Homo sapiens: one gene and its partner. The protein of the gene in region 2 purifies or fractionates together with the protein of the main gene of each other region. This does not show direct contact. Each region holds a gene or a part of one and is shown on either strand. Other genes may lie near its edges. The genes, in order: TTC33 and E2F8.

Evidence for each region.
Region 1: the proteins of E2F8 (region 2) and TTC33 purify together in Homo sapiens (affinity purification with mass spectrometry; 2 studies listed by BioGRID and IntAct, with this or other methods). This does not show direct contact.

The regions. Positions count from the first base shown.
Region 1 is NC_000005.10:40,721,985-40,737,712, forward strand, and holds part of TTC33 (tetratricopeptide repeat protein 33), read right to left. Parts: intron 8,360-15,728; coding exon 8,278-8,359; intron 6,493-8,277; coding exon 6,361-6,492; intron 1-6,360.
Region 2 is NC_000011.10:19,234,763-19,250,452, forward strand, and holds the start of E2F8 (transcription factor E2F8), read right to left. Parts: upstream 6,184-15,690; 5' UTR 5,786-6,183; intron 5,469-5,785; 5' UTR 5,360-5,468; coding exon 5,345-5,359; intron 3,371-5,344; coding exon 3,092-3,370; intron 2,709-3,091; coding exon 2,552-2,708; intron 297-2,551; coding exon 1-296. UniProt on the Homo sapiens protein: Atypical E2F transcription factor that participates in various processes such as angiogenesis and polyploidization of specialized cells.

The DNA of each region.
Region 1 (15,728 bases), on a different chromosome or scaffold from region 2:
ATAGACATTTCTCTAAATGGCTAACAGGTATATGAAAAGATGCTCAATATCACTAATCAGGGAAATGCAAATCAAAACCACCATGAAATATCACCTCATGAGTCCCAGCTACTCGGGAGGTGAGGCAGGAGAACCGCTTAAACCCGGGAGGCGGAGGTTGCAGTGAGCCGAGATCGCACCATGTCACTCCAGCCTGGGTGACAGAGGGAGACTCTGTCTCAACTCGCTCACTCAGTGCTCAATGTTGCCCAGGCGTGATCTCGGCTCGCTGCAACCTCCACCTCCCAGCCGCCTGCCTTGGCCTCCCAAAGTGCCGAGATTGCATCCTCTGCCCGGCCGCCACCCCGTCTAGGAAGTGAGGAGCGTCTCTGCCTGGCCGCCCATCGTCTGGGATGTGAGGAGCCCCTCTGCCCGGCCGCCCAGTCTGGGAAGTGAGGAGCGCCTCTTCCCGGCCGTCATCCAGTCTAGGAAGTGAGGAGCCTCTCTGCCTGGCGGCCCATCGTCTGGGATGTGGGGAGCGCCTCTGCCCCACCTCCCCGTCTGGAATGTGAGGAGCGCCTCTGCCTGGCCGCGACCCCGTCTGGGAACTGAGGAGCGTCTCTGACCGGCCGCCCCGTCTGAGAAGTGAGGAGCCCCTCCGCCCAGCAGCTGCCCCGTCTGGGAAGTGAGGCGTGTCTCCGCCCCACAGCCGCCCAGTCTGGGAAGTGAGGAGCGTCTCCGCCCGGCCAGCGCCCCGTCCGGGAGGTGGCGGGGCAGCCCCTGCCCGGCCAGACGCCCCGTCCCGGAGGTGGCGGGGCAGCCCCCGCCCAGCCAGCCGCCCATCCGGGAGGTGGGGGGCGCAGCCCCCACCCGGCCAGCTGCCCCGTCCGGGAGGTGGGGGGCGCCTCCGCCCGGCTGCCCCATCTGGGAAGTGAGGAGCCCCTCTGCCCAGCCGCCACCCCATCTGGGAGGTGTACCCAACAGCTCATTGAGAGCGGGCCATGATGACGATGGCGGTTTTGTCAAATAGAAAAGGGGGAAATGTGGGGAAAAGGAGAGATCGGATTGTTACTGTGTCTGGGTAGAAAGAAGTAGACATGGGAGACTCCATTTTGTTCTGTACTAAGAAAAATTCTTCTGCCTTGGGATGCTGTTAATCTATAACCTTACCCCCAACCCCGTGCTCTCTGAAACATGTGCTGTGTCCACTCAGGGTTAAATGGATTAAGGGCGGTGCAAGATGTGCTTTGTTAAACAGATGCTTGAAGGCAGCATGCTCCTTAAGAGTCATCACCACTCCCTAATCTCAAGTACCCAGGGACACAAACACTGTGGAAGGCCGCAGGGTCCTCTGCCTAGGAAAACCAGAGAACTTTGTTCACATGTTTATCTGCTGACCTTCCCTCCACTATTGTCCTATGACCCTGCCAAATCCCCTTCTCCGAGAAACACCCAAGAATGATCAATAAATACTAAAAAAATTTAAAAAAATTTCAATTAAAAACCTCAAAGCATAGGTTTAACAATTAAATAAAAGCTAACTCAAATTAAAAAAAAAAAAAAAAGAAATATCACCTCACATCTGTTAAAATGGGTATTATCACACACACAAAAAAGGTGGCCAGATGCGGTGACTCACACCTATAATCCCAGCACTGTGGGAGGCCATGGTGGGCGGATCACCTGAGACCAGGAGTTCAAGACCAGCCTGGCCAACATGGCAAAACCCTGTCTCTACTAAAAATACAAAAATTAGCCAGGCGTGGTGATGGGCACCTGTAATCCCAGCTACTTGGGAGGCTGAGGCAGGAGAATCACTCGAACCCGGGAGGCAGAGGTTACAGTGAGCCGAGATCACACCACTGCACTCCAGCCTGGGCGACAGAGCAAGATTCCCTCTCAAAAAAAAACAAACAAACAAAAAGGCAAGATGTGTCAGTGAGGTTATGGAGAAACTGGAACCCTTGTATATTGTTAGTAAAAATGCAAAATGGTGTAGCCATTATGGAGTTTCTTCAAAAAATTAAAATTAGAACTACCATGTAATAAAGCTATCTCATTTCTGGATATTTATCCAAAAGAATCAAGATCTCAAAGAGATATTAGCACTCCCAGGTTCATGGCAGCACTATTCACGATAGCCAATATGTAGAAACAACCTAAATGTCCATCAAAGGAAGAATGAACAAAGCAAATGGTATACACACAAAATGAAATATTTTTCAGCTTCAAAAAAGAAGCAAATTCTACAATACACAACATGGATGGGACTTTGAGGACATTATGCTAAGTGAAAGAAGCCAGTCACAGAAAGCAAATTCTGCATAATTCCACTTATACGATATCTCTAAAACAGGCAAATTCATAGACTCAAAAAGTAAAATTGTGAGGCAAGGCACAGTGGCTCACGCCTGTAATCCCGGAACATTGGGAGGCTGAGGCAGGAGGATCATGAGGTCAGGAGTTCAAGACCAGCCTGGCCAACACGGTGAAACCCTGTCTCTACTAAAATTACAAAAATTAGCCAGACATGGTGGCACACGCCTATAGTCCCAGCTACTTGGGAGGCTGAGGAACGAGAATGGCTTGAACCCGGGAGGTGGAGGTTGAAGTGAGCCGAGATCACACCAGTGCACTCCAGCCTGGGGAACAGAGCGAGACTCCATCTCAAAAAAACAAAAAACAAACAAACAAAAAAAAACAGAACAATAATAAAGCTCATAAACAAACTTTATTTTTCAAGAAAAAAACTCAATTCTTAAGTGTCAACATACAACATTTATAAAGACTATAATTCAAGAATTTGTACTATTCAATTATAAAAAAGATAATGCAGCTTGACTCAAACAATGTCTACAGTAATTAACTAAACTAAAAATTTACAAGTGGATTTTTTTTTTTTTTTTTGAGATGGAGTCTCACTCTGTCACTCATGCTGGAGTGCAGTGGTGCGATCTCAGCTCACTGCAACCTCCACCTGCCAGGTTCAAGATATTCTCCTGCCTCCTGAGTAGCTGGAACTACAGGCACACACCACCATGCCTGGCTAATTTTTGTATTTTTAGTAGAGACGACGTTTCACCATGTTGGCCAGGCTGGTCTCAAAACTCCTGACCTCAGGTGATCAACCCACCTCAGCCTCCCAACATGCTGGGATTACAGGCATGAGCCACCATGCCCAGCCAAATTTTTTTTTTTTTTTTTTGTAAATATAGGATCTTGCCATGCTACCCAGGTTGGTCCAAACTCCTGGCCTCAAGCAATCCTTCTGCCTCAGCCTCCCAAAGTGCTGAGATTATACGCGTGAGCCAGGATGCCCAGCCCCTCAAGTGAAATTTTAAAAACTCTCAATCATCTTCCTTTTGTCTGGAAATTATCACTTGTCCATCCCATTACTACCATTACAAAAGCGAAACAATAAAAAGAATCAAATGATGCAACTGAAATTTCTAATTAAAGATTTGCTCATGCAAAATATTAAAACCAATGGCTAAAATGAGACTTGGAAAACAGAGAAAACATTAGTAAACAAAATTAGTATTTATTGCACATTGGCATGAAGAAAAGCAAAAGCTGGCAATGAATTACACAGAGCCCGAAGAAGGGAAGCCACAAAGCTAGTTCCAGCACTGAAGGCTGAGAACCCTGGAAAGCCAACAGAAGAATCCTTCCTGATACTGTTACCTCCTGGTATTCATTACCTTTCCCAGTCTCCTTCCCTCTCTACCTTCTTCTTCAGGATAAATCCCTTATGTATTCCTTTCTCACCATCCCCATTCCCTCATACAGAATTTTTAACTCCCAGAACCATTCTCTTCAGCTTTTTTTTTTTTTTTTTTTTGAGACAGGTCTTGCTCTGTCACCCAGGCTGGAGTGCAGTGGCGCGATCTCAGCTCACTGCAAGCTCCGCCTCCCAGGTTCACGCCATTCTCCTGCCTCAGCCTCCCGAGCAGCTGGGACTACAGGCGCCCGCCACCACGTCCAGCTAATTTTTTGTATTTTTAGTAGAGACGGGGTTTCACCGTGTTAGCCAGGATGGTCTCAATCTCCTGACCTTGTGATCCGCCCGCCTCGGCCTCCCAAAGTGCTGGGATTACAGACTTGAGCCACCGCGCCTGGCTTCAGCTTTCTTATTCTCTCATCCTTCCACTTCTTAAAATCTCATTCTCATAAAGTCTTTTATATATATATATATATACACACACACACACGTATATATATATAAAATGTATACCATATACATACATATTTTATATATATATATCTCCTATAAACATTTTCCAATGTTCACATCCAACTCTTACAAAGTTTAAATAATTATTCATGGAGATATACCCAACTACTGACTTTTAATTTACTGCCTGTGCTATTTACATACATAATTTCCTATGGTTTTAGTCCATATGTATATATAGTAAGAATTGTTAGATATTAGAAATTCTAGCTTGCTTTCAATATATTTTACATAGTGTCCCTTCGTTATGACATTTTGAGTCATCTTTTTTTTTTACCATTCTAGTCTTTTAAGAGAACAGCTTAAATCTACATAAAAACAGAGAAGATTCCTAAAAATTACATTTAAATGGCAAAAAAAAAATACTTTCAATTCTTCTAAGAATTTCACAGTATTAATGAATAGAGCCATATCAACAGAAAAAAAAAAAGTCGAACTGGTACTCTTATTCAAAAAAATTTAAATATTAAATTATTTTTATTGGATGATTCAAAGTATCTCCGTCTCACCTGCAGTGTATTTTCTTTCTTTATAAAGGACAATCTTTACTAAATATTATGTCCTAGAGATTTGTTCCATTACCATAGACACTATTGGCAAAAGAGATAGTGATGTATAAATTTTTAATAAGGGAGGCAAGGAAAAAGTATTATATGATAGGGTTTTCTTCCCCTGTTAATGTTAGAAAACTAAATTCTTTGAACTCTTTTTTCCAACTCTGGTATGATTTAAGTCTTCATGTAAAAAGAGAGAAGTTGACAGTGCTAAATGGCAAGAAAAAAACAGTACTTGGTTAAAATGGTTTCTATCACTGTGAATCTCATTTAGATTATCATTAACTTACTTTAATCAAATCAATTATTTTCTCATACAAATTCCTTACTATTTCTGAGAATTTGACAAACACCTTTTTTGGTAAGTAGAAATAATGATACATTTATAAGAATGCCAGAAAAAAAGCTCAGTCATCCACAATTTACTAAAACCACTGTTAGTAAGTTTATATTTTGAATTTATCAGTAATTTTAGTCTTGCAAGAAACTTTTAAAATGTTTTATTTTGAACTGTAAAAAATAAAACCATTTTTAAAATCTTAATTTACTTAATAACAAGGAGGAAATTTGGCACTGTATATTAGATTTGCAAACACTTGTTAGGAAGTTAAATTTCGTTAGCTATCAGGTGTATATAGCCCTGCCAAAAGAAAAACAACAGGACAGCTGTCACAGCTAATTCTTACCTAGATAGCCTCTGCTACTAACAAGGTATAGTCCAGACAAATTGAGAGATGCATTAGGTACCAGTTTACGGTAAACATTACACAATGAGTATTTCATTTGCACACATTTCTACTCTTCCTCTTTATCCCCTCAATAAGCCTAACAACTTTTCAGTCTAAATGTTCATCACCATTACCCTCCCATATTCTACTGTCTTCCTTCCCCTGTATAATCTATCAGCGGTTTTGTCTCCACAGTGATACTAATACCACTTTATAATGTGGTAAATGTAATGATCCAAAGAACTAAGCCAAAAAGTTGCCTATTGTCTATTTAAATAAGGTTTACCAAATGCCAATGTTTTATGTTAAATTTTTTTTAATATCCATGATGTCAAGTAACTGAAAAATATTCTGATCATGATATAATTAGTGTCTATAATAAAAAAGATGTTCAGTAATACCTGTGAACTGTGTTTATGGATTAATACCTTTAAGAAGTAATTTGCTAATTGTTTTTTGTATAGACTTGATAAACGGCTATTCACTTTTGGGTTCAGTTAATCAAAAATATGTCAAAATAGACTGGGCATGTTGGCTCACGCCTGTAATCCCAGCACTTTGGGAGGCCGAGGCTGGAGAATCATTTGAGGTCAAAAGTTAAAGACCAGCCTGACTAACATGGTGACACCCCGTCTCTACTAAAAATACAAAAACATTAGCCAGGCATGGTGGCGCATGCCTATAGTCCCAGCTACACAGGAGGCTGAGACAGGAGAATCGCTTGAACCCAGGAGGCGGAGGTTGCCGTGAGCTGAGATTGCACCACTGCACTGTACCCTGGGTGACATCAAGACTCCATCTCAAAAAAAAAAAAAAGTCAAAATATACTTAAAATTTCTGCATTATAATAATCTGACTTCCTCACCAGGATTATCTCTCCTAAACCAAGTTGAGCACGTCCCAAAGTCTGCCAAGACTCCCATGAATGTGGATTTTGCTGGACGGCCATTTCTGCTGCATGTACTGCTGGGAACATTTCATGAAGAGACATTAGCACCTATAGGCAAAAAAAGACCAAAAAATCTGTCAGTAATATTCATAAACTAGCAACTACATAAAAAACCCTTTTCATTTTTTAAGATATATTTTTAGTCCAGTAAAAATAGCATTTCGGTGATTTTTACCCCTTACTCTGCCATTCAGGGTAAGAAATTATAGTTCTCTTTTCACCCCTTATATAACTATGAAAATGTAAACGATTCCCTTTCCAGTTATTGAATCTTATGTCCATCTGGTCAAAACCAAGTGGTCATATCCTAACTATGGTGGCTCAGAGGTATTTTGAACTCCCAATTCCACTTCCATTTATTCTATTTACAATGTGGTTTTCAGGGAACCCCAGGTATTGCCATTAAACTAGGTGAATTAATTTGTTCAACCAGCCATCCCGTCCCTAATGAACATCTTTATGTTATAAAAAGTATTTAAAACATTCCCTAGGCCTTCTCACTACTGGGCATTTCAAACCATACATACTAGGAAGGTAGGGTTAGGGTTAGGGTTAGGGTTAGGGAGAGTTAGGGTTACCAGAGAGTTCTAGTACCCTCCACTGTGGTCTGTGGGAAGAGGCTGGATTTTATCTATAATCTTTAGGACCATTAACACTTTAAAAGATTTGTGATACAAACATTATTATCAGGTTCCAAATTAAACAAGTCTTCATAAAGCTTGCCACAAACCTGTCATTCATATATACATATTTAAGATTGAAAAAGGAATACAAATGAAGGTCCTCATATCACTTGATTCAGATGACATAATTTATTTGGGTTTTTCCTGGATAAACTAAAGTCAAAGGTGACAAATGTGTGTCCTATATTTGAGATCACGATTTGAAAAATATTTGTTAGGTGTGCAGATTAAGGCTGAATTGCAACAATTCCCTGCCAAAAATATGTTTAATGCTCTGTGTGAGACTTTTAAAATCACTTGGATAACCTATTCAAGTGCTCAAAGGTTTTCTTTACAGACTTTCCTACAAAATATTAGAAACATGTTTTTAAAGTACAAATGTTATTTTTAAGCTATTAATAAAATTGCATCTATGCTGACCTTTTGCTAAGGACTAAGCCATTTTTAGAAATATCTCATCTAGAACCCAATCCATCCTCATTTTTAAGAAAACTGAACTATTTTGCTAAGTCTACTATATTTAATCACAAGGAAAGCGTATGTTTTTCATCTAAGAGCTCAACAGTGACTTTTTATTTATTTTTTATTTACTTATTTATTTTTTTGAGATGGAGTCTCGCTGTGTCACCCAGGCTGGAGTGCAGTGGCACTATCTCAGCTCACTGCAACCTCCGCCTCCCACGTTCAAGTGGTCCTCCTGCCTCAGCCTCTCAAGTAGCTGGGACTACAGGCATGTGCCACCACGCCCAGCTAATATTTGTATTTTTAGTAGAGGCAAGGTTTCACCATGTTGGTCAGGGTGGTCTCGAACTTCTGACCTCAAGTGATCCACCCACCTCGGCCTCCCAAATTGCTGGGATTACAGACGTGAGCCATGGCACCTGCCCACCAGTGACTTTAAAAGATAGCCACCGATTCCTATCTTACAATAGTTAGGCTAAAATAACAGTTAACTTCATTGTAAAGGCAAATGAATTTCCAGTTTTATGCATAAGACAGAACCATAAATAATGGTGAAATATTTTTTCCCAAAGAAACCGTATTTGTAAAAGAAAATGGGAGAAAATGCTATTTTGCTTCATCATTGCTCACTCACCGAACAAACATAGCACAATTTCATAAGGAAAGTGAAATTCTTCATAATTATTACCTGTGATTTCATCTCGTATAGGGTAGCATCATTTGGAGTTAACTGTAGTGCTTCATCCCACTTCTGAATTGCCTCCCGATATCTGTGGTTGTTAAAGTTATATCAATGCCATATTTTCAATATGCTTTTTTGGACTTTCAAAAAAAAATTTTTATTGTAGTAAAATATAAAATTTACCATCTTAACCATTTAAGTGTACAGTTCAGAGGCATTAAGTAGCATTAAGTACATATAGTTCATTCACCTTTGTGTGCAACCACCACCACCATTCATCTCCAGAACTTTTTCATCTTCCCAAACTGAAACTCCATACCCATTAAACAATAACTCCTCATTGCCCCCTCCTCCACCCCCGGGCAAACACCATTCTACTCTTAGACTGCTTTCAGGAGGAGCAGTCATGTACTTTCAGTTCAACAGTTTTTTGGACTACTTTCTAGTCCATGAAATATATGTAAAAATCCAAAATAAAGGATTAGCAAATTAAGTCCAGCAACTTACTAAAGTACAAAATCCACATGATCATGTAGTGTATGCTCAGAAAAACTTAGAAATGGGTTCATATGTAACAGATAAGGGAGAAAAAAGTACATGCCACTAAACAATACTTAGTATAATTTAACACCCATTTCTGATTATTTATAATAATAATAAAAGTATATACAACATTAAATAAATTTAGTACTGTGGTGCCATCATCTACTAAGCTTTAATGATATAACCTCTAAAAGCAGTAACTATATCACCTAAAAAGAAAGTACTTGCACTTCTTTAGGCATATTGTGGGTGATTTCAAGCCTCTCTAAACAATATTTCCAAATGTTATTGTAGATGTGACAGGAAAAACTTTGGAAATTAATTTATTGATGTATTCCTTCATAACAATCCTTCCACTCACAATTTTCTAACAAAGGTAGCAGTAATAAATTCTGCAAGACTTAATAGTAGCAAATGTCTTTCCTCCAGCATTAGAAGGAAAAGGTTGGACTGTTTGTCCAATCTTTTTTCTACCACTCCCTACACATACCTGTGCTCCACTCAGCAGGGTTTTTATAGTCCCTACCCACATATCATGCCTTTGTTAGTATGGATCCCCTGCTACACATACACACACACACATCTGTATTAGTTCACTCTCACGCTGCAATAAAGAACTGCCCAAGACTAGGAAATTTATAAAGGAAAGAGGTTTAATTGACTCAGTACCACAGGGCTGGGGAGGCCTCAGGAAACTTACAAGGATGGCAGAAGGGGAAGCAAACACATCCTTCTTCACATGGAGGCACGAGAGAGAAATGAGCGCTGAGCAAACAGGGAAGCCCCTTATAAATCCATAAGATCTCGTGAGAACTCAGTGTCATGAGACCAGCATGGCAGAAACTGCCGCCATAATTCAATTATCTCCACCTGGTCCCATCCTTGACACGGGGATTATTACAATTCAAGGTGAGATTTGGGTGGGGACACAGAGCCAAACCATATCACATATCTAAGATTGCCTTCCTACTCCTCTTCATCTATTCAAAGGCTCCTCCTCTAAGACCAAGTTAAAATGCTCCGTTCTTCATGAAGACCTCCTCCAGTGGCTCTAGCCCACTAACTATGAGTACCACTTCAGACCACATAGCAACACTTATATTTCCAAAGCATTTTATGTTTTACAAAGCACTTTCAATACAATTATTTAACATACAATTATTTTCCCAAAAAGTTAATTCACTTACTACTCAAAGTAAGTGAATATAAATTTGGTGTTATTTGCTTTTTTAAAAATTATTTTGAGAGACAGAGTCTTGCTCCGTTGCACTGGCATGATCACAGCTCATTGCAGCCTTGAACTCTTGGGCTCAAGGGCCTCCCACCTCAGCCTACTGAGTAGCTAGGACTACAGGCATATGCCACTATGGCCAGCTAATTTTTTTATTTTTTTATTTTTGTAGAGACAGGGTCTCACTATGTTGCTCAGGCTGGTCTCAAACTTCTGGCCTCAAGCAATCCTCCTGCCTTGGCCTCCACAAGTGCTGAGATTACAGGGGTGAGCCACCATGCCTAGCCTCAAGTTTGGCATTACTTGTTCTCACTTTATTGATGAGGAACCAATGGTTGAGAGCAGCTAAAGGACTGTCCAAGTCCTGCAAAAGACAGGATTTAAAGCTAGCTCTTAAAAATACAAGACCAATACTTTCTGTAACTATATCAAGTATGCCTCCCATTTAGTTCTGCTCTAATTCCTCCTTGTATTTTTGTCTTCTCTTCTCTAATGAGTTCAGGAACCAAAGGGTAGATTTGTTTATATGCTCTACAGTACCCAGAACATTTCTGGGAATGTAGAAGGTACTAATATAACAGATTTTTTTTTAGACAGTCTTGCTCTGTCACCCAGGCTGGAGTACATGGAGTACAGTGGCATGATCTCAGCTCACTGCAACCTCCACCTCCCAGGTTCAAGCGATTCTCCTGCCTCAGCCCCCCGAGTGGCTGGGACTACAGGCACATGCCACCACACCTGGCTAATTTTTGTTTTTTCGTAGAGATGGGGTTTCACCATGTTGGCCAGGCTGGTCTTGAACTCTTGACCTCAACTGATCTGCCCGCCTCGGCCTCCCAAAGTGCTGGGATTATAGGCATGAGCCACCGCGCCCGGCCTAATATAACAGATTCTATCTACCTCATTTGTCCTACCTTCTCCAAGTCCTGAAGGCAGCAGAGAGCAGCATATAAAGCAAGAAAAGAGGGGACAGATGTAGCATGCTCTTAACACACAGGAAAAAAAAATGGTAATAAAAACAAATTCTATCCTAAGACAAAAGTGGTAAAAATGTAAATTCTTACTTTGTTCCGTTCATTATTTCATATATAGAAATTATAAGAAATCCCAAGACTAGGGGAATGTGAATATAGGTAGAAAAAAACAAAAACATGAGAATTCTACGTTTAGCAGAGGGACCTTAAGAACCTGGATGTTTGAGGTTTCAGGAGTCTTTGACAGCTTTTGAGGAAGGGGCTGAAGGTCTTTGGTCTCTAGAGCAAGGGGTGGCATAGTAAAGGTCCATATAGTAAACATTTTAGGTTTTGTGAACCATACAGTCTATCACAACTATTCAACTCTATTACTGTATCCCAAAATAAGCCATAAACAATGCATTCAAAAAATGGGCATTGCTGTGTCCCAGTAAAACTTTATTTATAAAAACAGGTTGTTTTTATAAATAAAGTTTGCCAACCCTAGATCTACTTGGCCCAACCACTGTTAAAAGCTTATCATATTTGTCAAATTTACTTTTTACTTCCAGTCCTATTTTCTGCCCAACTCAACCAGAGGAAGTTATCACCCCATAGAAGGCATTTGTGGTCATCACTGTGACTTGGAGGAACTAGTGGCAGAGGGTCAGGGATGTTAACATTCTTCAAGGCAAAGAGCAAGCCTGCACAATAAAGAGCTGTCTTGCTGAAAATACCACTAGCACTACTGCTGAGAACAGGATGGCTTATCCCGTCCCCAACCCCACAAAGCTGCTTATGTTCCTAAGCTTAAGTTGTCCCAAGTACGAAATAAACTAAGAGGTTCAAGGTGACAATGACCATCACTAGTTTTTTCTTTTTATTAGGCAGGTATGCATGTGTGCATATACATACAAACAGACATACACACACACACGTGTAAACACAGGCTTACAGATTTGAGAAAAAAGAAAAATGTCCTCTCTTCTCAACTGCACTGTCTTTTATTTTGAAAGCATAACCATTGCTGCCAGCAGAGGCATCCCTCAATGAAATGTGCTTTGTTGCCAACGAGGCCTATAAAGGTTTAAAGGAACAAGTGAGCTGTTTTCCATGCTAAACAAAGCAAGAAATGGTGGGTATTTACTTCACTATCATCAACTTATTCAATTCTTCCCCCTTCTCATTTCTCTTTGGTTTACTTCTGTTGGCCTGCAAACAAAGGGTGGCACCACTTAGTTCCTCCATTTTTAGATCACAGGAAACTTGGCACTGAACAAATCAATAGTCTCTCATAATTTCTGCAGCATATCTCTTAATTCAACTTCAGTTTGGAACAGACTGAACAGACACAGCCCTACTGCAGCTGTTGGATAGGAAGCATTAAAAGATAAAAACTTGGTTTAAAGTCACTGTGGTTAATAAATGACCAAAGTCTGATTCCGCCAGTTTAAGGACAATCTTAACAGTATGCAACTGAAGTAGCACAAGGAAGGAAGCAAAGGGAATAGTTCCATGGACTACAACAGGGCAGGATGAGATAATGCCCTATACTGAGGTAAAGAACAGCTGGTGATCAAGCTAAATAAGTTAGATAGCACACTCATTTACCAAATAGAAATGTCAATGTGTTTAGCTACTTTACTCCCAATTAGACTTCTAATTTACTGTGGCTTTAAATTTAATGAGCTATATAGTTAACAGCTTATTCACTTTATAAATATTTACTGGGCACCTACCCTGGGACAGGTAGAATTCTAGTAATAAGTACTAAGGATGCAGCACCCAACAAGATATAAAAGGTCCCTACTATTCTTCCAGATCTTACTTTCTAAAGTGTATGCATGTTAGAAGGGGACAGGGAAAGAAAGATAACAAACAGTTAAAATATAAGTGCCGTGATAAAAGACAAATGGAGGAATGTGATAGGGAGTGACCAAGTGGCTATTCGGAATGGGCGGTCAAGAAAGGTCTTCCTAGGAACGCATTCAAGCTGAGACCTGAGTGACAAAACGTGGTCAGACAACTGAAAATCTGGAGAAGGTCCATTCCAGGCAAAGGGAAGAACCTGGGGCAGGACCAAACCATGTTTTGTGGAAAGGAAATAAAACCAGAGGAAAGGAAGTCAGAGGTCAGGGAGGTGGGCCGAAGCCATGATCACAGAGAATACAATAAGCCATAGTTATGCATGTGGATTTAATTGTATGTGTGATGAAGAATCCACAGAGTTTTTATACAACAGTGAGACATGAATTATTGATTTACATTTTTAAAAGATCAGTCAGACCCAGAAGAATAGACAGTAAGGGTACAAAAATGTACACAGGAAGGCTAGATATGAGACAACCAAAGTAATTTAGGTATGAGATAACCCTAGATAAGGATAGAAGTGAAAACAGAAAGAGGAAAAAAGATTTACAACACACTGAAAATGTACAGTTGGCTCAACTTGGACTTGGTATGAGTGAAAAAAAGAAAGAAATCCAGGATAATTTGGGTTACCTGGAAAACAGAGCCTGAGGCCAAAGCTTACTGGCTAAATCTTTATTGAGTGGATAGGATCCCACGCAATCAAGAGTGAGGGAAAAACAGAAGTAAGCCATGAAGAAAGAAGAATAAATACAAGGTCTATGTTAAGCTGGCAACAGCTCCACAAACACAGATGATTGTTGATCTGGAGAGCAAAAGGAAAGGAGCAAGCAAAGATTAAAAAGGAGAGGACATGGAGACAAGGACAAGCATGATAGCATGGTGGTGTGGAAGATGAGAGAGCAGTGTATTTAGGAAGACTGTGGTCACCTGTGCTGAATGATGAGAAGCACAATAAATGACAACAGAGAAGTGATGACTGGATTTGACAACATGGAGGTCACTGATAACCTTTACAAAAGCAGTTTCAGTGGATTCATGGGGACAGAAATATGACTGGATGGTTCATCAAGAAATGGAGTTTGTAGTGCAGTGGGAGCAGAGAAATGGCAGAGCATTTGGAGAGAAGCTTTTTAAATGGATGTTATCAGGGTATGTTTGCATGCCAGCAAGAAGGACCGAGAGAAAAGAAGAAACAGATTATATAAAAATGAGAGGACAATTTCAGAACAACGTTCCTGAGAAGGCACAAGGGGATGGGGTCTAGAGTACAAGTGGAGTGGTGGGCCTTTGATAATTACAATGGAATGATGACAGATCATATAGGCACAAATACAGTAAGGTTGGAAGATGTGCTGGTGAGAAAATAAAGTCATTCTACACTGACTGTATCTATGTTTTTCCACAGAGCATGAGGCAAAACCACTGTCATTAAATATACTGATGTGAGTAATCTGCAGAATGTGGGTCACACAGCAAGATCACCCTCAAATTTACATTAGTAGGTATACTTTCCTAGACAAGAACAAAATGCATGGTAAATTCTAATTTATATTCCTGCTTCATACACATACAACTGATTCTAACAGAAAAATCAGACCAGTTAGCTAGACAGTCAAATATCACCATCTAGTGGCTGAAACTTTAAAAGCCAAGATGTCAAAGTTGGGACTAACACCGTGACTCTTGAGAAGGTATAACCTAGTTTGTAATAATTCTAGAAAAAGCCACTTGAACAAAATAATTTACAAAAATATATATTACTACTACAGGAAATATACCAAGAACATATAAAATCCTAAAATATTATATCTAAAGTACATTCACTTGGTGCTTATTAGGTGCTAGGTAGCATGCTTTTACATGGACTTTGCTCTTTAATCCTCCAAAATTCTATAAGATATGTATCACCATTTGACCTATGAGGTAGAAATTGACAAAAAATAACTACCCAAAGTTTATGCAGATAGAAATGATAAAGTTGGGATTTGAATGGAGGTAATCTGACTTCAAAATCTACACTCTTAACCACTATACTCACTATACCATCTCTATTAAGCACCAAAATTTCTTGGGGGTTGGGTAGAAGAGTAAACCAGATTTTTGTTAAAAAGAATCATGAATACTCTAAGGTAAGACTTCTGAATTTAAAAGCCACTCAAGGTTGAGCATGGTGGCTCAGGCCTGTAATCCCAGCACTTTGGGAGGCCAAGGCAGGAAGATCGCCTGAGCCCAGGAGTTCAAGATCAGCCTGGGCAACATGGCAAAACCCCATCTCTACTAAAAATACAAAAAATCAGCCAGGCATGGTGGCGCACACCTGTAGCCCCAGCTCCTCAGGAGGCTGAGGGACAAGAATCACTTGAACCTGGAAAGTGGAGATTGCAATGAGACAAGATCGTGCTACTGCACTCCAGCCGCCTGGGCAACAGAGTGAGGCTCCACCTCAAAAAAAAAAAAAAGACTGGGGACTTCTGCTACTATCCTACAGGTGATGCACAAGAGTTACTAAAGAAGGCTGACAGAGTGATAAAATAACCAAGACCCGAAAATACATAATATCCAGATTCAAAATTTTACTGAAATCTAAATTATCTGTCAATTAACTTGCAATATAACAGCAAATTCAGAACACAAAGACATCATGAACACATATAAAGATATATGAAACGAATATAGAATTATTTTACATTTGACAAGCACTCAAAACTTTGTTTTTTTAATCAAATTTACTGGTGTGTGATTTATATATCAAAAAACGTACCCACTTGAAGCATACTTTCTGATGAGTTTTGAGAAATGTATATACTCATGTAAATACAACCACAACCATCACAATAAAGAACATTTTTGTCAATCCA
Region 2 (15,690 bases):
AGGGAGTTCCACAAAACACATGTCTGGGTGTCCATTTGGGCCAGTGTTTGATTTGATGATATGATCCTCTATACTGTAACTCTTAATAAAGTCAAACTCTTGCTCATATTCTTTCTTTTTGATCATCATAATCTGCTCGGCGTACTTATTCTCCTCCCCGATGCTCTTCAAGGTGCCAAGGGTTTTGTTGAGATTGTGTCGCCCGTGCCAAGTGTACCTGTTTTTGGCGAGGCGGCTCACCATATGTAAACTCTCTAGGACGTTCACGATATCGTAAATGCGTCGACGTTCAACATCTACAAAGAATGTGCAATTGTGTGTTACAGATTTTTGTAACGTGTTTAGAATTGAATAGCTTTTTCTTCCATTGGTTTATTAGTCAGTAGGTCTTGGATAATATCACTTTCCTAACTGTAAGTGAACATACTCAACAAATACTGTGAAGGTGAGAAAGACATGTGCTTGCTTTCCAAGGGCACAAATCATATGAATTAGAAAGGCAACATTTAATGAGGGCCTAAGTTGTGCTACACAGCTTTAGGAAGTTTTCACCCTAAACTTGTGAAGTAGGTATTATGATCTGCACTTTAAAAAGGATGAGAAAGGCCGGGTGCGGTGGCTCACACCTGTAATCCCAGCACCTTGGGAGGCCGAGGAGGGCGGATCACGAGGTCAGGAGATGGAGACCATCCTGGCTAACATGGTGAAACCCAGTCTCTACTAAAAATACAAAAAAATTAGCCGGGTGTGGTGGCGGGTGCCTGTAGTCCCAGCTACTCAGGAGGCTGAGGCAGGAGAATGGTGTGAACCCGGGAGGCGGAGCTTGCAGTGAGCCTAGATCGCGCCACAGCACTCCAGCCTGGGCGAAAGAGCGAGACTCCGTCTCAAAAACAAACAAACAAACAAAAAAAAAAAACGATGAGAAAACAGAGGCTCAGACCAGCTAAGTAGCTCACCCCAAAAGAGCTAGCAAGTAGCAAACCAAGTCTTTAAAACTCTACATCTCACACCTTCCAACCGCTTCCAATACAAACACGTACACACACGCCCATCTGTAATGATCATAAGATAGAAACAAAATGCTGAGATTTCAGAAAAGTACAAAAACCATGATGTAGTTTTTAAAAACTTACATAAAAATAAAATATGCCTTTTTGGGTCTAATTTTGCTTACTTTCTAGCTATCATTAACAATATGATATTAGTAATTCTGTGACTCTATCTATTTAAATTGGGTTTTCAATATTCTGTAATGTTAGAATTCTCTTCGTTCAAGAAACTTAATTTCAATTTAAATATTTGATGAGATCAGCCTTTCTGGAAAAGTGATCAATAAAACACTATTTTAATAAGGGTGCATCCTACCGACCTCTTGCTGTCCCTGGAACCTGCCAGATATGCACTTGCTTTGTACCGGCTGTTCCTTCTGCCTGGAACCCTTCTCCCTGATGTCCTTACAGCTCCCTACCTTGCTTCTTTCAAGTCCTTGCCCAGATGTCACCTTCTCAACGAAGCCTGATCTGACCACTTATGGCAAAGCACCTCCCCAGCACTCCTGATCCCTTGATCCTGATCTACAATTTATTTTTTCCACTATGCATGTTACCTTCTAGCATGTATTATCCTTACTTACTTCCTATATCCTTTACTCAGTATCTATTGCCCCACTAGAATATAGGTTCTAAGAGAGAAGAGATTTTGCCCTTTTTGTTTACGGATGTATCCCAGGCTCCTACAACATTGCCTGACACATAGTAGTAGAAGATTAATAGATATTTGCTGAATATCCTACCCAGCTACCATTAAGCATATATGAAAAGTAGATGAATCTAAACGGTATATTCTTAAAATGTGAAATAAAGTTGATATTTACAAACATGTATTAGAAGGGCAACTTTTCTTCACGGGGTGATTGCTTTGTATTAAAATGTATTATCTTGCACAGCACATCACTTCACAGGTTTAAATTAAGATACCCACATGACTCCAAAGGTACCCCAAATTCACCACGGGCCCCTTTTTAGCTCCAAATAGATTCAGGTCTTTGAACAGAGTAAAAAGGGGCAGGAGGAATAACTTGTGCCCAACACAAAACATTCAGAAAACTAGTCCTCAGAATAGTGCTGAAGGTCCAGGAGTGCACAGGTCCTGTTCCCACTCACAGAAGCTGATCCTCAGCGTCAACTAGGAAGATAACCATTTATCAGCCTGATTCTTCAAGAACAGCAAGGGAGAGCAATGAAGCAAAAGTTCACAGTTGTAACTTTGTGAAACAAGTCATGAGACAATATTGCCTTTCTTTAAAGCTTCAGAGACAACTGTAGTCAGAAGCAACCTCCATTGTGACTTTTCTGCCTCCAAGATTTGCTGAAATTTGCAACTACTTACCTTCATTCTTATATTAGAAGAGGGCTTTAGAGATAGAAAATTTCCATGCCGGCTTATTTGTGTCATTTACAAACACTGGCTAGATGAGCGGGGGTCTGAAGGAGTTAAGTCCATAAAGCCACTTTAATTATTAATTCTTTCAGTGAGTTCTTTGCATACTTACTAAGTTCCTCTGCCACTTCGTCAAGGCAGATGTCATTATTCACAGCAGGGTTGGGATAATTAGGATATCGTGCTAAGAACTTATGACACAATAATCCTAAACTTTTCTCTTTTCGACTTGGTTGGGATTTCTCAAATTCATCTCCAGATAAGTGTTCCTACAAAGGAAAAGGTAAACAATGTCTTATTCTAAAATAAAGTCTGACAGATTTATTAGGGGCATCTGTGCTCGATGACTGACACCAACTTACACACGCTTAGCTTCAACAGCTGCAAAGTCTGGATGGGAGAAAAGGTTAGGGGGGCCAGTACAAAATGCTTGGCAAACCTGAAAGGAAAGCCTGAAACGAAAATAACGCAAAGGTTCAGAATTCCCAGAGCTATATTTCTTGGGGTCCAAACCTTTCTGGTGCTCCGAAGGAAGTTAATAACAGCCTTCGGGTGGTGATGCTTTAAATTGCTGGCACTTCTCTAATAGCTACAACCTCCCCCCTCCCCCCAACAAATTCCCCAGCCTCCAACCAGTCCTCTGAAAACCTACGTGTATACAGTCTTTGGCCTCAGGTAATCCACTTCTGTTGTCAAACAAACCCCTTTTCTGATCTCTGTTGCGGATCTCAGGGCTCACAGCACTGATGAGCATTTTCAGGTTGGCTGTCGGTGTCCACGGCTCTCCCTGAGAGCCTTCCTTGGGCTTGGTAGGTGTGGTTAAAGGGCCAAAGTCAGGCTGGATCTCTGCCAACACGATATTTGCTGTGGTGGATTCTTTCAGAGGTGTTTTCATTAGTCCCCTTTTATGTGGCTCACAAAAGAGATTTTCCTGGTTTAAAAAATGTAAATAATTAAATCCATGGTAAAACAGGATTTATCAGACAGCTTGGATTCTAGAAATTGCATAACGAATAGAATCATGCCAAGGAAAAAATGTCTAATGAGATTGTAGAGTTGAGGAAATTAATAACTGTATTCTAATGGTCATGTGATGTGTATTGTCAATTCTAATAATTACATTTCCCATTTTTAATTTTGCAATAAGCCATAAATGTTTTCACCTTATGTTTCAACCACTGAAAAAACAACTTTAGTTAGGACTTATAATTTTAATTGTATTTTGAAATAGTTTTAGATTTAGAGAAGAGAAGCAAAGACAGTATAGAGTTCCCAAATGCCCTTCACTCAGCTTCCCCTAATTGGACTGACAATGTTAAATGATCAAACTTCTAGAAATGACTTTTGTTTACTCATGGCACTGTAATAAGTAAAGGCCTACAGGGCAGAAATTCTTATCCACCTAGCATAATGGCTGCATGCAGTGGGTGCTAAATAAAATACCACTGAAGAGTCAGAGAGACAAGGAGACAAGAGTGAGGGATAGCATATGGTCAGATTTATCAGGGAAATCTAGAGTGTCCAACAGCAGGATTTCTGACCAGAAAAGTCTGCTCTTTGAACATCCACTCCCTCATTTTACAGATAGAGAAAATGGGGCCCAGAGAAGTAAAATGATTAGGTTGGTGCAAAAGTAATTGTGGCTTTTGCTACTGAAAGTAATGGCAAAAACAGCAATTATGTTTGCATCAACCTAACAGCTACCTAAGACCACAAAGCTAGATCCTGGCAGAAGCAGGATAGCCACTGAGACAAAAGGGTAAATTAACAGCAGTTCATAAATAAGGCTAATGGAGACTATGTTCCTTCCAGTTTTGGACACCAGGGACTTCACACACTACTCCCATCTTTATCTATTTTAAAGAAAATGCTTGGAACAGCAATAAGTAAAATAATAGGCAGACCAAATAACTTTAAGAACATGGACAAATGGGACATGTTGTGACATCTTGGGTTTATCAAGTGCATTTCCGTTTGTATGTTCATGGAATCCTGCATTCTTAGCTCGCAGAAGAGAAGATGCAGGCTGAGAGAGGTCACGTAGGAGTGGAACACAGATATTTTCACTCCAAGTATGGTGCTCTTCTTACATGGAAGTCAGTATGGTGGACCCAACAGGAGCTCCTTGCCAGTGTGTGCATCTGAGATGTACTGATCTGACAATAGGCTTTTTCTTTGCCTCAGATTATCAGAAGCAATAGTAATTCTCTTATTTGACTAACATCTAAAACTATTAGGAAATATGCATGTAAGTTCACTTTTTTAAACCTATTAGTAGTTGGACACCCCCCACAGACAATTCTTTTGTAATTTTACAAAATGTTTGCCCCCTAAACAGAGCATTTTGCAGACCCCATAAATAAGCTGCCAATTTGGTAAAAAATTATCTTAAAAAGAAATTCAGTCTCCAAACATGTCAAATGCCCTTTCTGAATTCCAAGTTGTTCAAGAATCCTCAGAAATGTTGTAATGAAACTAACGAATTTTTGAAGAGGGGTAGGTTTGCCCCTTTACACTCTTTCTAGTTTTTAATGATTTGGTAGCTGTCTCAGACATAAAGAGAGAAAAGGTATTTTTAAGAATAATAAAATTTGTTAGTTTCATTACAACATTTCTGAGGATTCTTGAACAACTGGAATTCAGAAAGGGCATTTGACATGATTGGAGACTGAATTTCTTTTTAAGATAATTTTCATTTTTTAAACTATATTAATTAAATTAGTATATATTTTAAACTATATATTTTTGAAACTATAAGATAAGGTTCATTTTTTCCAGGTCTTTACAGAGGCTAACCAAGGTTGTGGCATTAAGAAAACACATTGGATAGGGAAAAATTATGGAGTTAAATCAGGATGATACTGAATTTAAAATTGCAATGATGAATACTGAAGTTATAAAGTACCTTTTCGTTCTCCATTCTGTAAATTCCTCATACATTTAGAGTTTAAAAATGAAAAATCTGGAGTTCCTCCCCAAATCCCGATGGTTCAAGTAGTCCAATCAATTGTACTAAAAGTTTTAATATCCTTAAAGAAAAAAGGAAATAGAAAAAGTTAGAGAAAAACAAGAACCAAAAGATCTGTTGAAAATTCCTTCACGGACAAGAGGCTACGGAAACAAAGCCTAACGAAAAATGACAAACTAGATTTACATTTTATTCTCGACCAGAGATCGCCCCACTGAGCGGAGAACGCCAACAAATGCCAGTAAATTCCTTCAGCAAACGGATCGGCGGTCCTAAGACTTCAAGCAACCCACGGAATTTCTAGTGACAGCCCTCTCCCATCTGTAGAAAAGGCGAGCCATTCTCCGGACCCCAGCGAATACTTTAGGAAGCACCCACCTGTTCGCAGATCAGGGCTCCGGACTAAGCGCACGAGCCCAGGTCCCAGCTGAGCGCACGCGACCCCAAGTAACTGGGTACAAGTCTGCATCTAGATGCCTGGATTTCTCCCCTTACACACACGTGCACAGGCTCAGCAGTAAAGTCGTGGGAGGTCGCTTGACAGGAAAGTTCCAAATTCAGTCCCAAAGCTCCAAGTATGCAGTTGGGCATTTAAAGAGTCTTATAATTAAGACTTTTTTTTTAAATTTAAAAAAGGGCTTCCTTAAAGATACAAAGCACTATTTACTCCCTGTTCGGGTGGCCAGTTCACACCACGGCGTTAGACTCCACCTTGGAAGGCTGTATTTGCCCAATAAGGCAAGCAGGTACTGTCCCCCGGCCGCCACTCGCTCAGTGCACTTCCCCCAACTTTCGGCCAAAGGCCCCTCCCCCAGGCCCTGTCCGCCCGCCGCAGTCCCGACAGTTCCCGGACAGCATCATCGTGGTTTCCAGGACAACAATTCCCGACCAATCAGAGGGCCGGAAGCGGGCCTGCGATTGGCCGACGGCGCCAGGGGCGGGGCCGGACCTTCCGCCTTCGATTTAAAAATTTGGCGCGGAAAGTCGGACCGTGGCCGGCGCCTCCCCTTAGCTGCGCGGGGCCTGAGCGCGGGCAAACCCGCGCCCGGAACCACGGCAACCCCGCCCCTCCCCCTCGTTCGCCCCCGCCCCTCTGCGCGGGAGCTCAGCTCCTCCCTCACGGCCCCCGGCGAAGCGGGAGGCGGGAAACGGCCGCCGCCGCCGCCGCCGCCACCCTCCCGAGCCCTCTCCCGGTGCCGTGTCGCCCGGGCGCCGCGCCCCTCTGCGTCCCGCTGACCTGTCAGTCCACCTCACGGCGGGAGCCGGCGGGGGCTGAGCCGGGACTCGTCAGCACCGCTGCCCCTCTCAGGCCCGGGAGCCCGCGTACCTGGCAGTCAGTCTTTCCGCAGCGCCGAGGTGGGTGCCGGAGAGAGACGCCGGGACCGGGACTGGCGGGCCGGCTGGCGGGCAGAGGGAGCGTGACCGTCCAGGAGCAGCCAAGCCCCCGATTTGAAATTAACCCGCTCCCGGCGCGAGCCGATACCGCGGGCGGGGAGGGCCGCTCCCCTCCCCCACGCCCGCTCGCCCCGGCCCCGGCCCCCGAGCGCCAATCCGAGCCTCCCGACCGTAGCCGCCGGCGAATCGGTGCAGGCACCGCCCTCCACTCCCGCCTCTACGGCAGAGTTGGGGGAAAAGTTCAGCAACTTTTTTTTCCTTTTTTTTTTTTTTTGCATACACCCCCTCCCCTTGCTCAAAGTTGGGGAATAAAATTTGGCCCGTCCGGGGCTCGCGGGCTGGGCCGCAGGCGCCCTGCGATTCCCCGCTTGGGGCTATCTCACCCCTGCCCAGCCCCAGGCCGGCTCACCTGCCCTCGGACTCCAGCCGGACCTCTCCCCCTTGCACCCCTGGCATGCATGATTGTGCTGCCCACCGTCTGCCCCGTGCCTCGCAGAAACTGGCGCGAGGAGGGAGAAGCTTGGCTACTGGTGCCTAAGCTCCGTGGGCTCTGGGCCTTGGCCCAGCGGTGAGAACTCAGGTGTAGGAGGAAGAGGAGGAAGGCGGAAAACCCTCCAACCCTGTCCTCGCCGTCTTTCCTCAGGGTCTCCCACCCACTCCTCCCTTTCTCTTCCCTGTTGTCTTTCCCTCTTTTTCCGGTCTCCGAGCCTCAGGCAGCTTTAGCCTGGTTCCCTGTAGAGCCCTAGCAGGGTCGGGGAGACACTTCGATCCTTCGTCCTCACTTTGCAGAACGGGACACCGAGGCCCGGGGCGGCGGCGCTGCCTCGGCTGCACCTGGATCATTTGCGCCCGCGTTGGCTCCCTTTGCTCTCCTCTGCCTTAGACTTTTCTGCGGACTGGTGCTGAGTGTTGCCCAACCGCGCCGAGATCTGGGCGCCGGTCTCTCGATCTGGACTCGGTTTGGCTCGTCCTCCTCTGTAATCGCGTGTCTTTAGGCTCCAGCAGGGCCCGGGGCCACACTTCCCCACTCCCACCGCTAACTTGGGGATCAGTGACTCTCCCATTGCTGACTAGCAGGGCGAGGCATTTTTATTTTCTGCGAAACGCGATGAGGGCGGGGATGCTATGATATTGAGGCTGGGGTCGCAGCGCAGCAGCTGCCGGCCATAGGGCCAGGGGTCTCCGTGGCGAGCGAAGGCTCATCTCCCCGCGGAACGCGACCGCAGGCTTGCGGTGTGGCCGCCCTGGAATGTTGGCGCCGTCGTGTCCCTGTCCCCCTTTCGTCGCCAGCTGAGGTGCAGGTCTTGCTCAAGAAGGCGCTTCGACCTGAAAGCAGGCCTTTCAGGTACTGTGCAGAGGGGCCACTGCCTGTGGCTCGCAGATTTGAAATAAAGCAGAGGTCACTATATAGGGTTCCACCGTTGCTAGCACTGAGCGGCTGGTTCTTACTAAGCCCAGGTACCCCTTTTTTGGAGCAAGACTGGGTTCTAAATGTATCAACAAAAAGTGGGGAGTTGGTGCTTCTGCTTTAGCCACTAGCTGTTGGCCAGATTGTCATCTCCCCCAACCCCCTGAATGGTCAGCGCTCCCAAGAGTGCATAGATTCAGCTATGCCTAATGTACCCGAAGTTATTACAGCCCCGGAGTCCTGTGGGCCATAAATCCCTTTTAAAGTTCTTTAGAAGCAGTCTGCCTCATGCACCTGTGTTCAGAGATAGTGACTAATTCGTTCAAATCTGTGATCTACAGGGCCATTCATGCTGCAGATGTCTGAGTGACAGTTACCTGTAAGGCACATCATGCAGGGAGCAGCCACCTCTGGTGACACTTGACAGATGGCCTCTCATTTCATACTCAGCACAGGTGTGAAAGCATGGGTTATGACTCTGAGAGGGAAGCAGCATTTTAAAGTGACAAACCCAAGGTCTAACTGTAAGGGACAGGACTGGGATTTGAAGCCAAGGGTGTTTAACGTCTCAGGGCTTTCCACTGAAAGCTGTGTTCACCACTGTGCGGCGTGCTCATCCTTACTTGCTTCATAGGATAGTTGTGTCCCATTTTATAGAGAAGAAAACTGAGGCACAAAAGGGTTAAACTGATGGCCAAGTTAGCTACAGAGCCAGAATTAGAATCCAGGTCTACCTGCTCCAAGTTCATACATCCCATTCCACTGCCTCTGAAAGTTCCTGTGAGAGCAATGTTAGTGCCAACTCAGGCTAGCCCTTAACCATTTCAACCCCTCCCTAAACACACAAAAAAACAGGAAGGTGAGAGTGTAATTCTTGCTTACTGATAGTTGTCATGTCTTACTGAAGGAAGTGAAATTATAGTCAAACTCATTGAATATGTTGAAAAGTGGTTTTATTAAGAGTGAAGTGATACAGTTTTGAAGTCTTAACAACACTTTCATGTAATGAAAGGTAATAAAGAAAGAAAGGTTCTACTCATCACTGTGTAGAGTATCAATTTGAAATGCAGCATGAGTGTAAAGGAGGGAAAAGACTACTGAAAACTTTTATGTTTACTGCATAACCAAGAAGGAAGGATCAGGGCATAAGCTTGAAACTTTTTTTTTTTTTTAATTTTCCCATCAAATATGTTTTCCACTTATTAGTTACATAATCCAAGGGAATATTTGTGTATTTGTTTCTGGTCTTTTGTTCATCATGTTGTGTAATCTGTGTCTCACTGAAGTTAGACCAGTTTTTCTACTCTGTGCTGTCGCCCTTCTGGATTGCACAACTTGGAGGGCTGATACGTTGTGTAACACGTTCAGCATTAAATAAAGTATTATGAAAAAAGATATCAAAGGTAAGGAGGAAAGATAGGCATCACCGGGGCGCCTACATTCAAAGGTAACATTTGGGATTTCTGAAGCGTGTCCCTTTTCATCATCACCAAAAAGACAGGCAAGACCTTCCCCTGCTGAGCAGGGAAGGATGAAGGGCTAAGGAAGGAGTTCTAGCTAATGGGTTTCTTGACCTTTTCTGTCTGTCTTGCTGCCCCACCTCCTAGGTGCTTATATCACCAACTCTGCTTCCTGACCTAGTGGGGCAATTTGGGTTTGTGCTTTATCTGCAGTACGTGTTGGCATAGATACCACGAAACAGCTCTCTGGAGCTTAAAACTGCACAAATCCCTATGTGCTGGGTTGGATTGTGGCTGCTCACAGCTAGATCTCAGCTATTCCTGGTCCTTGTACTAAGCCTACAAATGAATCATGCTGGGTCTAGTCTGGGCAGGGTTAAAGAGGATGGATACAAGCAAGGGACCCAGGAAGTGGGCATGCCTGGAGCTGGCTTGTGCTGACTGTGGAGCTAGACTAGGTCAGAGTAAGTCCCAGGCAGCAGCAGGGCTGTGTGTGAAATCCCTTCAGACTCTCCTGTGACCTCCTGTGGGAAATTCCTGATAGGCCCTGATGTATCCTGATGAGCCCCATATAGACATTTGCAGCCCTGGACTCAGCTGCAGCAGCAACAGTTGCTGCCATTTATTGAGCAATTACTGCTTCTAATTTCTTTTTTTGTTGTTTTTTTTTGAGACAGAGTCTTGTTCTGTCACCCAGGCTGGAGTGCAGTGGTGTGATCTCGGCTCACTGCAACCTCTGCCTCCTGGGTTCAAGCAATTCTCCTGCCTCAGTCTCTCAAGTAACTGGGACTACAGGTGCGCGCCACCACGCCCAGCTAATTTTTGTATTTTTAGTAGAGATGGGGTTTCACCATATTGGCCAGGCTGGTCGCGAACTCCTGACCTCATGATCTGGCCACCTCAGCCTCCCAAAGTGCTAGGATTACAGGCATGAGCCACTGCGCCCAGCCAGCTTCTAAATTTTAAAAATACTTTGGGGATAATAGAACACAAATTTTTCTGAGAGTCCTCATGCGAAGCTGGAGTCTGAGTTCTGTTCTCATTTTATTATTGCGCATGGAATCTTAAAATTGTCATAATGTCATGTAATCCAGTGCTTATCAGTGGGTTGGAAAAACCTGCTTTTCCAGGTTCTAGGACATTAAAGAAGTATATGTAGAGATTCCTAGGAGTAGGGTTCAGGAATTTATTACCTAAAATATAGTCCTACTGGAGCCAGGCGCTGTGGCTCATGCTTATAATCCCAGCCCTTTGGGAGGCCAAGGCGGGTGGATCACTTGAGGTCAAGAGTTTGAGACCAGCCTGGCCACATGGTGAAACACCGTCTGTACTAAAAATACAAAAATTAGCTGGGCGTGCTGGTGGGGCCTGTAATTCCGGCTACTTGGGAGGCTGAGGCAGGAGAATTGCTTGAACCCGGGTGGTGGAGGTTGCAGTGAGCCAAGATTGCACCACTGCACTCCAGCATGGGCCATTAAGCAAGACTCTGTCTTAAAAAAAAAAAAAAAACAAAAGTCCCATTCAATGCAGGAATCCTATAACCTTCCTGATCAATCAATGATTGCTGCTCTTTGCTTAAAGCTGGTAGTGAAAGGTAACTGTGCTGATCCCCTCCAGGCAGATTTATTCACATCCTGTTCTTGATCATACCCCTATATAGGCACCTCTGTTATGGATGCTTCCCACCTACACCACTGTGCGCTCCTTAAGGCAGGGAGAGGGACTTCTTCATCTCTTGGTCTTTCCAGTGCCCAGCAAAGTGCCGGACCCAGAGCAGGGGCTTGATAGGTGTTGGTTGATGGAGTAAAATTCTACTCTGGAATGTTATCCCACCAACCTCAGATGATACCTTGTCTTTTAATCTCTTTATCTTCAGTACTGAGTTCAATGCCTGGCACACACTTGGTGTTCCATAATGCTAGGAAAATGAGCTCGTAATTACCACTCCCTTTTAAATGTCAGGTTTTTTACTTTAGCTAGGTTCTTCGGTTTTATTTATTTACTCACTGAAAAATAGTATACTGAGTGCTATACTATGCCCCTAAACCCTGAATTAGGTGCTAGGTATACACAGTGAGTGAAAGAGATAAAGTCCTTGCCCTTTTGGAGTTTATATTCAAGCAGTAGAAAGTGTCTGGTGCAAAGTGTTAGCTTTTATTGTATTTTTTTTTTCCTGTGTGAGATTTCTCGCCATTCCTCAATTCAACAAATATGCCTTTTTTATTTTTTTTTTAAAAATAAATGTTCTATCTCTATAGTACTTTTTAAAAGTTTCTGTAGATATTTTTCTTCCCTAGGAACCCAAGTTTTCTTCTCTTCTCCTTTCATCCCATATGTATGGATCACTTGCTCCAAGCCTAGGGACTCAGCTAGGCACCAGCTACAGGACATGTTGGCTGCCCTTGGGATCCCAGCAACAAAGCCAACTCTTCACTTACTCCCACTCCCCCTCTCTCTTTCTCCCTCTTCTGCAGAGATGTGGACTGCATCTGGACAAATTGTCTGCTTCTCTGAGTTCTTCAAGATTGTGGCCTCTTAGTCACGGGAGGATGCCCTGTTTCTCTTGGAATGATACTGAAGTTGGCATAAGTGGGTTCCTTACACCTCAGTGGCCCTCAGTCATTGTGAATTCAGGCACTGAGAAGACAGAGCAGGCTCTTGATCAGCTGTGTCAGGCTGGGGGCATCCCCCATATAAGGTTCTAAACAGTCACCAAACATTCTAATAATCCACTCCTCCCTGAAATCTGAAATCTGCCTGATTTCTTCCAACTTCTTGGCACTAATGAATACCCCTTAAAGTTACGGTTTTCAGGATATGATTTGACCTAATATGCTTCATGATATCCAGATATATTATGGTAGAGTTTTATTGCTCATTGAACTGCTTTATTGTACAATACAGAGACAGAATAGGACCTACACAGATTAATTTTGTTGACAAAACAACTTATTTTCCAAAAGAATTAGATAGCTCTCCTCTAAGCCTTAATCAAAAATGTTTAGACTGGGTGTAGTGGCTCACGCCTGTAATCCCAGCACTTTGGGAAGCAGAGGTGGGCAGATCACGAGGTCAGGAGATTGAGACCATCCTGGCTAACACGGTGAAACCCCGTCTCCACTAAAAACACAAAAAATTAGCAGGGCGTGGTGGTGGGTGCCTGTAGTCCCAGCTACTTGGGAGGCTGAGGCAGGAGAATGGTGTGAACCTGGGAGGCAGAGGTTGCAGTGAGCCAAGATTGTGCCACTGCACTCCAGCCTGGGCGACAGAGTGAGACTCCATCTCAAAAAAAAAAAAAAAAAGCTTAATAAAAGCTCACAACAGTTATCAATATGGAAATTGACTAGAGTATATTAATCCACGTGTGGTTATAGTTATTAATGAATTGCATTTGAGTTTGCCCGCAAAATATATAGTTCTATATACTCTTTTACGATAGTGCTAACATGGAACATAGTCCATGATTGATTATATGCTCGGCCATAAAGCGAGTCTCCATAAATTAAAAAAAAAAAAATCAAAACCATACCAGCCATACTCTCAGCCACAGCAGAATAAAAATAAAAATCAATACCAAGATGATCTTTCAGAAACCACACAATAACATGGAAATTAAACGACTTAGTCCTGAATGAGTTTTGGGTAAACAACGAAATTATGGCAGAAATTTAAAAATCTCTTGGAAATACATGAAAACAGAGATACAACATACCAAAATCTCTGGGTTGCAGCAAAAGCACTGTTAAGAAGAAAGGTTACAGCACTGAGTGCCTACCTCAAAAAGTTAGAAAGATCTCAAATTAATGATCTAATGTCACACCTAGAAGAACCAGAAAAATAAGAACAAATGAATCTCAAAGTTAGCAGAAGAAGAGAAATAATTAAAATCAAAGTGGAACTGAATGAAATTGAGGCCCCAAATCCATACAAAGAATTAACAAAAACCAAGTTGGTTATTTGAAAGGATAAACAAGATCAGTAGACCACTAGCTAGATTAACAAAGAAAGAAGATCCAAATAAGCACAATCAGAAACAACAAAGGTGACGCTATGCCTGATCTCACATAAATACAAAAGATCCTCAGAGACTACTGTGAATATACCTCTATGCACACAAACTAGAAAATCTACAGGAAATGGATAAATTCCTGGAAATACACAGTCTCCCAAGGTTGAATCAGGAAGGAATTGAAACACTGACCAGATCAATATTTAGTTCCAAAATTGAATTAGTAATAAAAAATCCTACCAATCATAAAAATCCTGGACCAGATGGATTCACAGCCTAATTCTACCAGACATACAAAGAAGAGTTGGTACCAGTTCTACTGAAACTATTCCTAAAATCAAGGTGGAGGGACTCTTCCCTAACTCATTCTACAAAGCCAGCATCACTCTGATACCAAAACCTGGTAAAGATACAACAAAAAAAGAGAACTACAGGCAAATATCCCTGATGAACATAGATGCAAAAATTCTCAACAAAATACTAGCAAACTGAATTCAACAGCACAGCAAAAAGTTGATTCACCATGAACAAGTAGACTTCATTCCTGGGATGCAAGATTGGTTCAACATATACAAATCAATAAATGTGACTCACCACATACGAAGAATTAAAAGCAAAAGTCATGTGATTATCTCAATAGACACAGAAAAAGCTTTTGATAAATCCAACATCCCTTCATGATAAAAACCATCAAGAAGCTAGGCCTCGAAGGAACATACATAAAAATAATAAGAGCCATCTATGACAAACCCATAGCCAACATCATGAAAACTGGAAGCATTCTTCTTGAGAACTGGAACAAGACAAGGATGCCATGCCCACTCTCACCACTCCTATTCAACATAGTACTAGAAGTGCTCGCCAGAACAATCAGGCAAGAGAAAGAAATAAAAGGCATCTGAATAGGAAAATAATAACTCAAACCATCTCTTCGTGGACTATATGATTCTATACCTAGAAAACCCTAAAGACTCTGCCAAAAGGCTCCTGGAACTGTAAACAGTAAAGTTTTAGGATACAAAATCAATGTACAAAAATCAGTAGCATTTCTATATACCAATAGCATTCAAGCTGAGAGCGAAATAAAGAACTCAATCCCATTTACAATAGACACACACACACACCCCTAGGAATACATCTAACCAAGGAGGTGAAAGAATCCCTATAAGGAGAACTACAAAACACTGCTCAAGAAATCAGAGATGACACAAACAAATGAAAACATTCCATGTTCATGACTTGGAAGAATAAGTATCATTAAAATGGCCATACTGCCCCAAGCAATCTACAGATTCAATGATATTCATATCAAACTACCAACATCATTTTTCACAGAATTGGAAAAAAATTCTACAATTCATACAGAACCAATAAAGACCCCAAATAGCCAAAGCGATCTTAAGAAAAAAGAACAAAGCCAGAGACATCACATTACCCAACTTCAAACTATGTTATAAAGCTACAGTAACCCAAACAGCATGATACTGGTACAAAAACATACACATAGACCAATAGAACAGAATAGAGAACCCAGAAGTAAAGCCACACACCTACAGGCATCTAATCTTTAACAAAGTTGACAAAAATAAGCAATGAGGAAAGGACTCCCTATTCAATAAATGGTGCTGGGATAGCTGGATAGCCATATGCAGAAGGATGAAACTGAATCCCTGCCTTTCAAGATATATAAAAATTAACTCAAGTTGGATTAAAGATTTAAATGTAAGACCTCAAACTAAGAATCCTAGAAGAAAACCTAGGGAACACCACTCTGGACATCAGCCTTAGGAAAGAATTTATGACTAAGTCCTCAAAAGCAATTGCAATAAAAACATTGACAAGTGAGACCTAATTAAACTAAAGAGCTCCTGCACAACAACAGAAACTATCAACAGAGTAAACAGACAACCTAGAGAATGGGAAAAAAATGGTAAATTATGCATCCAGCAAAGGTCTAATACCCAGAATCTATAAAGAACTTAAATAATTGAACAAGCAAAAATCAACCCCA